2 separate regions of the Homo sapiens genome follow, and region 2 is linked to region 1. The links come from fine-mapping of genetic effects on gene expression. A gene starts in region 1. The other region holds a variant in brackets. All regions are shown on one strand. Distances are from middle to middle. Region 1 holds the start of ACADS (acyl-CoA dehydrogenase short chain). Region 2 overlaps CIT (citron rho-interacting serine/threonine kinase).

Region 1 (5,320 bases):
CTCCTCCTTCCCGCTTCCCCCAAAATCACATTCCAGTTTTTATTGTCTTTGTGTCCAAAGTAAACTAGGTGACTTATTTGTATAAAATGTTATTTTGCCACATGAGACAGTAATAAAAGAAAGATTTTCACAGTACGTCTCCCTCGTCCTGTCTCCTGATTGTTGGGCCCGTTGTGTTGCTGAGGGGAGCAGGGGCGAATGGGGGCTCCAGGTTTCTCTTACTTTGGCTATTATGTGGCCCTTCTGTAAGTAGTTGAACTAGAGTATAGCTGGCTTCTAGGGTGATTGAGGAATTGTACTGGACTTTAGGCTTAATATTTTTGCTTTATATTTTCCCAGGGTGAGTGGCTTTGTAAATTGAAAGTTTACATGCATGTTTTAAAGGTAGGGTTTTTTTTTTTGAGATGGAGTTTCGCTCTTTTTTCCCAGGCTGGGATGTGATGGCATGATGGTGGCTCACTGCACCCTTCGCCTCCCGGGTTCAAGTGATTGTCCTGCCTCAGCCTCCCAAGTAGCTGGGATTACAAGTGCATGCCACCACGCCCGGCTAATTCTGTATTTTTGGTAGAGACAGGGTTTCCCCATGTTGGCCAGGCTGGTCTTGAACTCCTGACCTCAGGTGATCAACCCGCCTTGGCCTCCCAAAGTTCTGGGATTACAGGTGTGAGCCACTGTGGCTGGCCATAAAGGTAGGCTTATTAAGAAATACTTTAACTACAGTAAAATTTACCTCAATTAAGAGTATTGATGCATTTTGACAAATGAATACTTTTATTACCCATCACAATCATGATATAGGACATTTCCATCGTACCCACTCAGAAAGTTCCTGAGTTCCTTGTGTTTGCAGCCAGGTGACTTCCCCCACTTCGCCTCTTGCAACCACTATCTGATTCTGTCTCTATTGGAAAACTTGGATACTTTTAAAATGAAATTTGAACGTTCATATTTACAGTCACAAATTCTCAAGAGTCTGGTTTAGATGCTCTGTGGCACCTGAAGCAATTATTGGCCTTTGCTCACAAACACAACTCACTTATTTCTCCCTTTTCTCCTGCTTCTTCATCGTTTCTTCCACCCAGGGCTGGTTCCCAGGTGGGATGACGGAAAGGTGAGGAAGCCCTTAGAGCATTTGCCAATGGGAGCCATTCATTTGACTTTAAAGTACTGAGAATTTAGAGGCGTTCTTTTAAATGCATTATTTAAAAAGAAAGGTAACACATTAAGGACTTTGCTGCATCTTTTGATTGGCTTTCTTCTAGGAAGTAGTGACCGAGGTTTCCACTTTCCTCCAAGAGGAAGAGACAGAAGTTTTGGCAAATAGGTCAATGCTGGGAACAGATGCCTGCCTGGCTGAGTGCTGGGAAAGAAAGGCAGTTGGAGGGATGTGTGGGTGCCTGGGAGGGCGTGGGTGGTGCCCAGGAGGCTATGGGAATCAGAATCACACTTGCACAAGAGAAGACCCTTATGGGACAAGTAAAATCAGCATAGTTTCTTGGGCGGGGCAAAGGTGTCCTGATGAGGATGCTAGGGGTCAAATATGTGTCTGGGTTCTGCCCCAATCGGGAATGAGACACAGTACTGAAGTGGAACGGGGGTAGCATCTCCACCCACCTTCACAGCCTCTGGGGAAAAGAAAGCTTTCCTTGCAGCCCAACTCCAGGGGCCTAAATATTGAGCACCAACACAAGACAGGTCCTTGAGCTTCTCGGAGCGAGTCGGGGAAGCAGATAATTTCAGATGCAAAGTGCCTTGAATAAACAGAACGAAAGATAGAGAGCCAGAGGGGGAGAAACGGCTTGGTGTGGTCAGGGCAGGCATCCATGAGACCTAAACGAAGAGGGGGCATTCCAGACAAAAGGAACAGTGATCACAGAGGCCCCGAGTCAGGAACCAGCTAAGGGTCTTAGAGAAGAGCTGCCTCGTAAAGCTAAGCAACAATAACCAGGGAACGGTGGGCATGGGCCCTGATAGACAAGGCAGGTCTTGGCTTTTTAAGCCATAGAATTGGATTTTAGGAGGGATGGGCCCGCCGACAAAGCCAACAAAGTTTTAACCCGAAGATCGCTATCTTATTTATGCTTTAAAAAGACCTCTCTGGCCTTTCTGCGAAGCTCTATCCTTAGCTTTCTCTTGTTAGCATTTTGATTAACGAATGTGGGCACGAACAGCCAGCTGACCGACCGCGCGCGCAGTCGAGCGTCGGTTCCTCGCCTTGGGAGGGACCACTGGAGGCCCCGCCCCCTGGCCGCGAGCGCACCTCGGCCCCGCTCCCGAGGCCCTACGGGCGTGGCCTCTGTCCCGGGTCCCGCCCCCCAGCACTCCGGAACAGCGCGCTCGCAGCGGGAGGTCGCGAAGCCTGGGACTGTGTCTGTCGCCCATGGCCGCCGCGCTGCTCGCCCGGGCCTCGGGCCCTGCCCGCAGAGGTGAGTGCGCTGGGGATCCGTACGGCGGGGCTTCAGCCCGCGTCTGGCCCAGCGGGCGGAGGTCCTGGCGGCCGGCTCTGTCAGAGCCGCTGGCAGGCGGAGCCCCACTCCGGGAGCGCTCACGGCCTTTGCCCCAGTTCTGCTGCTCCTTGCGCCGACCCAGCCCGGCCCTTCAGGCGTCCCTGGTTCCTGCACAGACCCCTACCCCCCGATTGACCCCAGCCACCAGCCCAGTTCCCAGTTCCCATATCTCCCTCCCTTCATTTCACCCCCACTAGAGGTTCAGGGTGCGTCCTTCTTCCGGAGCCAGGCCTGGGATTGAACCAGACCCGCATCTGTGACCTTGGGCAAGACAGCCCCTCCTCAGCCTCGGTTGGCCCATGTGTAAAATGTCCACAGAGAAAATCAGAGTTGTTGGGAGGATTAAATCATAGGGTATGTAAAGCACTTCGTGCCTGGCGTGTAACAGGTGTTCCACAAATGCTCGTTCTTGCTGGTTAATACAGTACCTTTCCCATCTTACGTGTCTCCAGTTGTAGCAGCCGTGACACATATAGCCACGGCTTCCTTTGCCTGGCCTGAATTACAAGGGGAACGCTACTGAGAACTGTGTTAAGCGCTAGTTAGTCTTTCTTTCGCACTCCGAGGAGCGGAATACTATTCGCCTCCACTTGTTATAGAAACGGAGGCTCACTGACGTTTAAAACCCTTGCCTAAGGTCACAGAGCTGAGGTCTTATTACTGTTGGTATTATACTGAGGACTGAAGGATGTAGTGTATGGAAATGTCTAGTGAGTGTACTAAGCATTCAGTTAGTATGGGGTTTTCAGTGGCCGCCATGGACATTTTGGGCTGACAGTTCTTTGTTGTGGGGGCTGTCCTCTGCCTTGTTGGATGTTCAGCAGGGATCCCGGACCCCTATCCACTGGGTACCAATAGTATTCCCCTGCTCTAGTTGTGACAACTAGAACTGGCTCCAGACATTGCCAGATGTCCCTTGGAGGGCAAAATCCTCCCTGGTGAGTTAGTGGGTCACTAGGATTCTTGGAGACCTCCTGCCTCCTCCTTCCACTCACTTCTGCCCTTGCCGGCAGCTCTCTGTCCTAGGGCCTGGCGGCAGTTACACACCATCTACCAGTCTGTGGAACTGCCCGAGACACACCAGATGTTGCTCCAGACATGCCGGGACTTTGCCGAGAAGGAGTTGTTTCCCATTGCAGCCCAGGTGGATAAGGAACATCTCTTCCCAGCGGCTCAGGTGAGAGTGCAACCTCAGCAGCCCACGATAGTGGTCTGCCCTCTGCTACTGGATGAATGGTGGCAGTGACAGTCAGCGGCACTCGGACTCTGGTAGAGGAACCCCAAAGCAGGGCCTGGAACCCAGAAAATGCTCTGGAAGTTTCCCTTGTCCAGCCTGTGGCCAGTAGCCAGGACTTAACTTCTGGGACAACAGTAATATGTGGTGGATGGTCAGTTGCTTACTGTGCCAGCCACTGTGCTCATTCTAAATAGTGCCTTTAGGGTGTTTGGCATGCACTAGGCACTGTTCTTGAGATGGGTTATCTCATCTGTTCCTCACAACGGTCCTGTGAGGTGAAGGTACTATTCTTATTTATTTTTTTGAGACGGAGTTTCACTCTTGTGGCTCAGGCTGGAGTGCAATGGTGCGACCTCGCCTCACTGCAGCCTCTGCCTCCTGAGTTCAAGTGATTCTCCTGCCTCAGCCTCCCAAGTAGCTGGGATTATAGGCGTGCACTGCTCTGCCCCGCTACTTTTGTATTTTTAGTAAAGACGGCGTTTCACCATGTTGGCCAGGCTGGTCTCAAACTCCTGAATTCAGGTGATCTGCCCACCTCGGCCTCCCAAAGTGCTGGGATTACAGGTGTGAGACACCACGCCCGGCCAAAGGTAGTATTATTATATACCCCATGGACTCAGACTTGTGAACAAGTTAAATAACATACCCAAGGTCATGGAGCTCATCAGCGGCAGCCTGCTCGACCTATTTTCTTTTTTATTTACTTATTTTTTTTTGAAATGGACTCTCGCTCTGTTGCCCAGGCTGGAGGGCAGTGGCGCAATCTCAACGCACTGCACCCCTCTGCCTCCTGGGTTCAAGCAATTCTCCTGCCTCGGCCCCCAGTAGCTGGGATTACAGGCGGGCACCACCACGCCCAGCTAGTTTTTGTACTTTCAGTAGAGATGGGGTTTCTCCATGTTGGGCAGGCTGGTCTCAAACTCCTGACCTTAGGCGATCTGCCCGCCTTGGCGTCCCAAAGTGCTGGGATTACAGGCGTGAGCCACCGTGCCCGGCCTGCTTGAACTGTTTTCTCCCCTGAGTTTCCCATCAGCGCGCTCCCTCCCGTGCCACTGTGTTCTTCCATTTGCATTCAGTCTGTCTGCAGCTACGCGTTGAAGATGTTACTGCCGTACACGCTGACCTAAAGATGTCCAGCACCTGGTGTAAACACTCAGTAGTAGATAGTTGTTTAATTAATGATTTGTGAAAAGTCAAACCTCTCCGGCCTCTTCTCCTTGCCTGTTTTTTTTTTTAATTTTAATTTTAATTTATTTTTTATTTTTAAAAATTTTTTGAGACAGTCTTGCTCTGTCACCAGGTTGGAGTGCAGTGGCGCGATCTCGGCTCACTGCAACCTCCGCCTTCTGAGTTCAAACAATTGTTTCCTGCCTCAGCCTCCCGAGTAGCTGGGATTACAGGCGCACACCACCATACCCGGCTAATTTTATGTATTTTAGTAGAGACGGGGTTTCACCGTGTTGCCCAGGCTGGTCTCAAACTCCTGAGCTCAGGCAATCCACCCGCCTCGGCCTCGCAAAGTGCTGGGATTACAGGCGTGAGCCACCACACCCGGCCTTAAAAATGAGTTTTAAAA
Region 2 (5,378 bases), 930 kb before region 1:
CACAGCAGTGCTGTCTCTTCGAGCACGAAGCCAAGTTTGGGTTTTCCTTTTTTTTCCAGCTTCTATTTTCTAGAAAAACTTACTCTGAAATCAACATCTCTCCCTGATATACACATCTGCTTTATAATTATAGAAGCCCAAAGAGTATTAATAGGGATAATGGCATATGACACAGAAGAAAGAGCAGGCATGGTCATTACCGCTGTAACAGGAAGACATGTTTTCTTAAAATGTATCAGATATGACATAAAAATTGCTTTACATGTAACCTCAACATTTCAGTGAAAATTATAAAATGCAGTTTTCCCGTGATGTACCTGTAAATAATCCATATAACTTTGTTAAAAAAAATTACTTAATAGGGCTATGAATAAAATATTGCATATCAAAAGAGAATACAATGTGTACTCCTTCCTACAAGCAAGTGTACATGTTGAATACTCTTTAATCACTACTGCGATGATTAAGTTCGTGCTTAAGCATCAAGCCATCCATTTATTCCCTTAGGAATAGGACCCTATGCCTGCAAAATACGACACCAAACCACAGATAACACAGATCACAAATCCCAGATATTCTTGGGAAAACCAAGAATGAGTATACTTGAAGCCAAAATGAGGGGACTCAAAATTAGCTCAGCTGAGGGCCCCACCTTTAGTGCTGGCCAACAGCACTAAAAATACATGCAACTGCAAGATGTAATATGCTGCAAAAAATAAAAAACTCATCAGCATTCCGTTTCCAAAAATATACTGGCTTTTAAGATTGAGCATTCCGAAATTTGTGAACTTGTTTTATTTATTTATTTAGAGATGGAGTCTTGTTCTGTCACCAGGCTGGAGTGCAGTGGTGCGATCTCGGCTCACTGCAACCTCTACCTCCCAGGTTCAAGCAATTCTCCTGCCTTGTCCTCCGGAGTAGTTGGGACTACAGGCACGCGCCACTGTACCCAGCTAATTTTTTTGTATTTTTAGTAGAGATGGGGTTTCACCACCCCGTTGGCAAGGATGGTCTCGGTCTCCCAACCTCATGATCCACCCGCCTCGGCCTCCCAAAGTGCTTGGATTACAGGCGTGGGCCACCACATCTGGCCTCTGAACTAATTTTATAAGCACACTTTAAAATACACAATGGTGGCCGGGTGTGGTGGCACGCACCTGTAGTCCTAGCTACTCGGGAGGCTGAGGCAGGAGAATTGCTTGAACCTGGGAGGCGGAGGTTGTCTTGAGCCGAGATAGCGCCACTGCACTCCAGCCTGGCGACAGAGTGAGACTCCGTCTCAAAAATAAAATAAAAATAAAATAAAATAACAATGGTGCCCATCAGGAACACCTGGAAATATCAAAAACACTATTCCCCTAAAGACAGTCAGAGTCTGTCTAGCTTTGGGGCACCCCCCCTCCCCCACCACACACAATATATATATTTATATATATACCATACACACATATACATACTGACACACACCACACATACTCATATACATACACACATATGCACTCACACACACAACCAGCAGTGGTCTCTAGTTAAATTAGAGCACTTGCTTTGAAATGATTAATATGTAGCTCCAGAATCATTTATCAAAAATCATGCTATTAATAAAAGAATAGCTAGTCCCATGATTTTTAATTCAGTTCCCACCTCTAAGCCAGTGCCTCACTTTGCAGGTTAATTTCATTGCCTCTCACCTGGATGACTGCAATAACCACACTTACCTCCCTGGATCCAACTCTTGTCCCTCACTATCCACCCTCCACACAATGGTCAGAGGCACACTTTGTGAAATAAGACCCAGATATTCCATGACCCTATTCAAAATCCTGCAAAAGCTTCCTACTCAGTGCAATTTAGAGCAAAGTCCATACCTAAAGGCCCTGATGACCTCAGCTCAGACCATGTTCCTTGTGTATCCTTAAGTACCCCCTACCCAAACATGCCTTCTGTTCATTGAGCACCCATAGGTTAGTGGCAGCCTCAGGGCCTTTGCCCTTTTTTCCTCTCTCTGGAATACTCTTCCCACTTATTTTTGCTAACCGACTCCTTATTGATATTCTGGAAGAATGCACTCTGTGTGGGCAGGGATGCTTGCTCCTTTGCATTCACTGTTACTTCTCCAGTGCCTAGAAAGTGCTTGGCACATAGTAGGCTCTCAAATAGCTGAATGAATTAATGAATTAATGAACAAATGAATGAATGTGAATCTGCCCCCATCATGTAAGCTCCATGAAGACAGGGATTTTTGTCTCATAGTCAGTGCTATATCCCAGGTTCTCGAACAGCCCCTAGGACCTCAGAGCTGCTCAGTGTGGGCTTAAAAGCTGTGTCACCTTGGGATGCAACTCAGCCTTCTTGAACAAATACTCATGCTCAGCTCAGAGAACCTTTCCTTGCGGACCCAGTCTAAAGTGGCCACCCCCAGGCAGTCTCAATCCCAATTCTGCAGACCACCATCTGCAATTGCCTCACATGTGCACAGTAGTTATTTCTCCTTTGTTTCTCCCCACCAAATGCTAGCTTCTTGAGAGTAAAGACCTTACCTGTCTTGCTCAGAGTTGTGCCTTAAGGACTAGAACAATATATTTGTTGA[G/GTGAA]TGAATGAATGAATGAATGAATGAATGAATAAATAAGTGAATGGTGTGCTAGTACTTCTGTGCCCCCAGGCAGCCAGTTTAAAGGTCACCGTGGGATAAAGGAATCCAAAATGAGAAGTGTGCTGCATGTATGCTGGCATGAAAAAGCTTTCCAGCACCTGCAAGTAGAGATGCCCAGCATTGGTTCTGAGACAGGAATGGCACAATGACACACAGACTTACCCATCCAGGGGATACCCAAGTGCTTCCAGGGTGGGTGGGAGCATGTGACATCTAGGCTGGGAACATGCACACTTCCCACTGGCACTGGATCCTACCAGAAGCCTGGAGAGCATTTTATAGAAAGTGCAGGTTGAAGTGATACATCACAGACTCCATTCAGAGTAAAAAATTAGATGGAGATATTAGGACATCTGTCAGGCCCCCCACGTGGAGCTGGATTCTCTCAATGGGCAGAAACCAGCAAGATGTCTTTATAAGGCGGAAGCAGGGAGAAAAAGAGAGTCCAAAGCACCCCATACCCATCCTCGGACCTAAATAACATTAACAAATATGAAATGAACACTCATTCTACTCATGGCACCAACACTAAGTGTGCTTCATATCCCCATGGCAAACCTATCAGATAGGCGACCTTACACCTTCCACTTTACAGATGAGGGAATTGAGGCTGAAAGCAGTGAAATGTCTCATTCACACAACAAGCAAGGGGTGAAACCCTGAGTTCAGCCCACGTCTGTCTGATTCCAAAGCCTGGACTTTGAATGGGTATGCTACAGTCAGTCCCAAAAAAATAGGCATGTTTATATCAGTTCTAAAGTTAAAAGTTGAGCCAGGCGTGGTGGCTCACATCTGTAATCACAACACTTTGGGAGGCCGAGGCTGGCAGATCACTTGAGGTCAGGAGTTCAAGACAGGCCTGGCCAACATGGTGAAACCCAGCCTCTACTAAAAATACAAAAACAAAATTAGCTGGGCGTGGTGGCAGGCACCTGTAATCCCAGCTACACGGGAGGCTGAGGCACAAGAATCGCTTGAACCTGGGAGGCGGAGGTTGCAATAAGCTGAGATTGTGTCACCGTACTCCAGCGTGGGCAACAGAATGAGACTCTGTCTCAAAATAAATAAATAAATAAGTTAAAACTTGGAAAAGTTGACCACCCTCTGCCAGATGTGAGCTGAGTGAACCTAAGAAGTAACCCAAGCATCATGATCATCATTTTCTCTATCTGTAAAATAATGAGTTATTGCTGGGTCTACATGAGAATGCTTGTCAGGCACTCAGAATAGTACCTAGAAGAGTAGATTCTCATTAAAACCAATTCTTTTACCTTTACTATTAGACAAGTCCATAACTCCTGCATAATCTAGCAAAGTCATGGCTCTTAGAGGCAGGGTAGATAGTACAGTGGTCTAGAGGCAACCAGATATTGCTCCAAGTCTTAGATGTGTTTCTACCTTCAGAACCTCAGGAAAATAATCTAATCTTCCTGAATCAGTGTCTTCATTTGTAAAATGGGGATAATATCAGCTACCTCATAGAGTTACAGTGAGATTGTGATGATTTAATGAGATAATGCACATAAAGTACTCGCATAGTTCTGGGAACACAAGAAGTGCTCTACAGAAAACAGGTTCCATTAGCAGTTGTCTACACTGTGCAGAAGGAATTGGTATAATCCCTGGCCATTTTAGTCTAATTCAATTCAACAAATGTTCATTGAAGACCTGCCAGGGGCAAGGCACTGTTTCAGGCAAAAGAAGGAAGACCTGGTCCTGTCCTTAATGAGCCTTGAACAGCTTGGCCAGACAACACTATTGAAGTGATTCAGTAGGGGATGAGGAGACACAAATGAGCCGGCAGGCTGGGGTCTTGGCATACCAAGACTGAATACCAAGTTCAGGAGCAGCCATTAATTATGAGCACACTGGGATGCTGTTGAAGGTGTAAGCCGGTGAATGACATCATCCAACCTATGCTTTGGAAGAATTCCACCCTTTGTGGAGAATGGATTACAGCCAGGAAAACCAGAGGCAAGGGAATCACTGAGGAGGCTACTGCACCAGACCAAGCAAGAGTCCATGATGGGTGCCAATGAGGAAGAAAGATGGGTATGGATGCAAGTGGCATCCTAGAGGCACCACTTGGAGAAATTGGCAACTGATGGGATGGCGGGGGAGGCAGAAAAGAATTTACGATGACTCAGCTTTCTTGCCTAGAAGGGTAGGGAAGGTGGTAGTTTCTTACATAAAATGAAGAAGCCAAAACTAGCACCTAGTGGCTTACTGAGTGAGCGAGTGGGTCTGTCTATGTAGGAAGGGAACAGAGGATGGGATGGTGAGAAACTGGTAAAACATCCTGGTGATGAGGAACACAGTGTACGATGGGAGGAGGCCATGGGGAGGTAAGAACTAAAGTCAAGGAACTGAATGAGATCACCAAGAACCAACTAGAAAGATAACTGAGGATGGAACTTGAGGAGATGGTACGTACATTGCAAGAGCCTGATGGCAGCCACAAAAGAGTGAGAATGACAGTCAGAGAGGTAGGAGGGAAACCAAGTGTCCATAATACAGAAGAGAAGAAAGTAGAACGTTGTCTCGAAGAAAGGTAGTATTAATGGTATCACGTGGTGAGATGGAAATCACCAGATTTGGTGGTTAGGTACAATCAACGGCTTCTGAGACAGTCATTTCAGTATTGTTGAAGAGGTGGAAAAAAGAGGTGTTGAGTGCAGGCTCTTCTTTCAGGAAGTTTGTCGGAGAGAGGTCAGGAGATGAACAGCAA

What was found. PIP is the estimated chance that this variant, and not a neighbour inherited with it, causes the effect. A credible set is the group of variants that fine-mapping cannot tell apart.
Region 2: its variant is the best candidate, but not a certain one, in a credible set for the expression of ACADS in ovary (GTEx, PIP 0.89).

Annotation. Positions count from the first base shown.
Region 1 is chr12:120,723,506-120,728,825 of GRCh38, forward strand. It overlaps ACADS (acyl-CoA dehydrogenase short chain), which reads left to right and starts at 2,321. Exons shown (of 10, transcript NM_000017.4): 1 at 2,321-2,426; 2 at 3,521-3,684. The coding sequence starts at 2,381. It overlaps UNC119B (unc-119 lipid binding chaperone B), which reads left to right. Exons shown (of 5, transcript NM_001080533.3): 5 at 1-135. RefSeq lists an enhancer at 1,993-2,494 and a silencer at 2,131-2,640.
Region 2 is chr12:119,791,680-119,797,057 of GRCh38, forward strand. The region is part of intron 10 of CIT (citron rho-interacting serine/threonine kinase); the gene reads right to left. Among named protein-coding and RNA genes, the nearest start is that of MIR1178, 81 kb to the left of the region's middle. The variant G/GTGAA (reference allele first, on the strand shown) is at 2,591.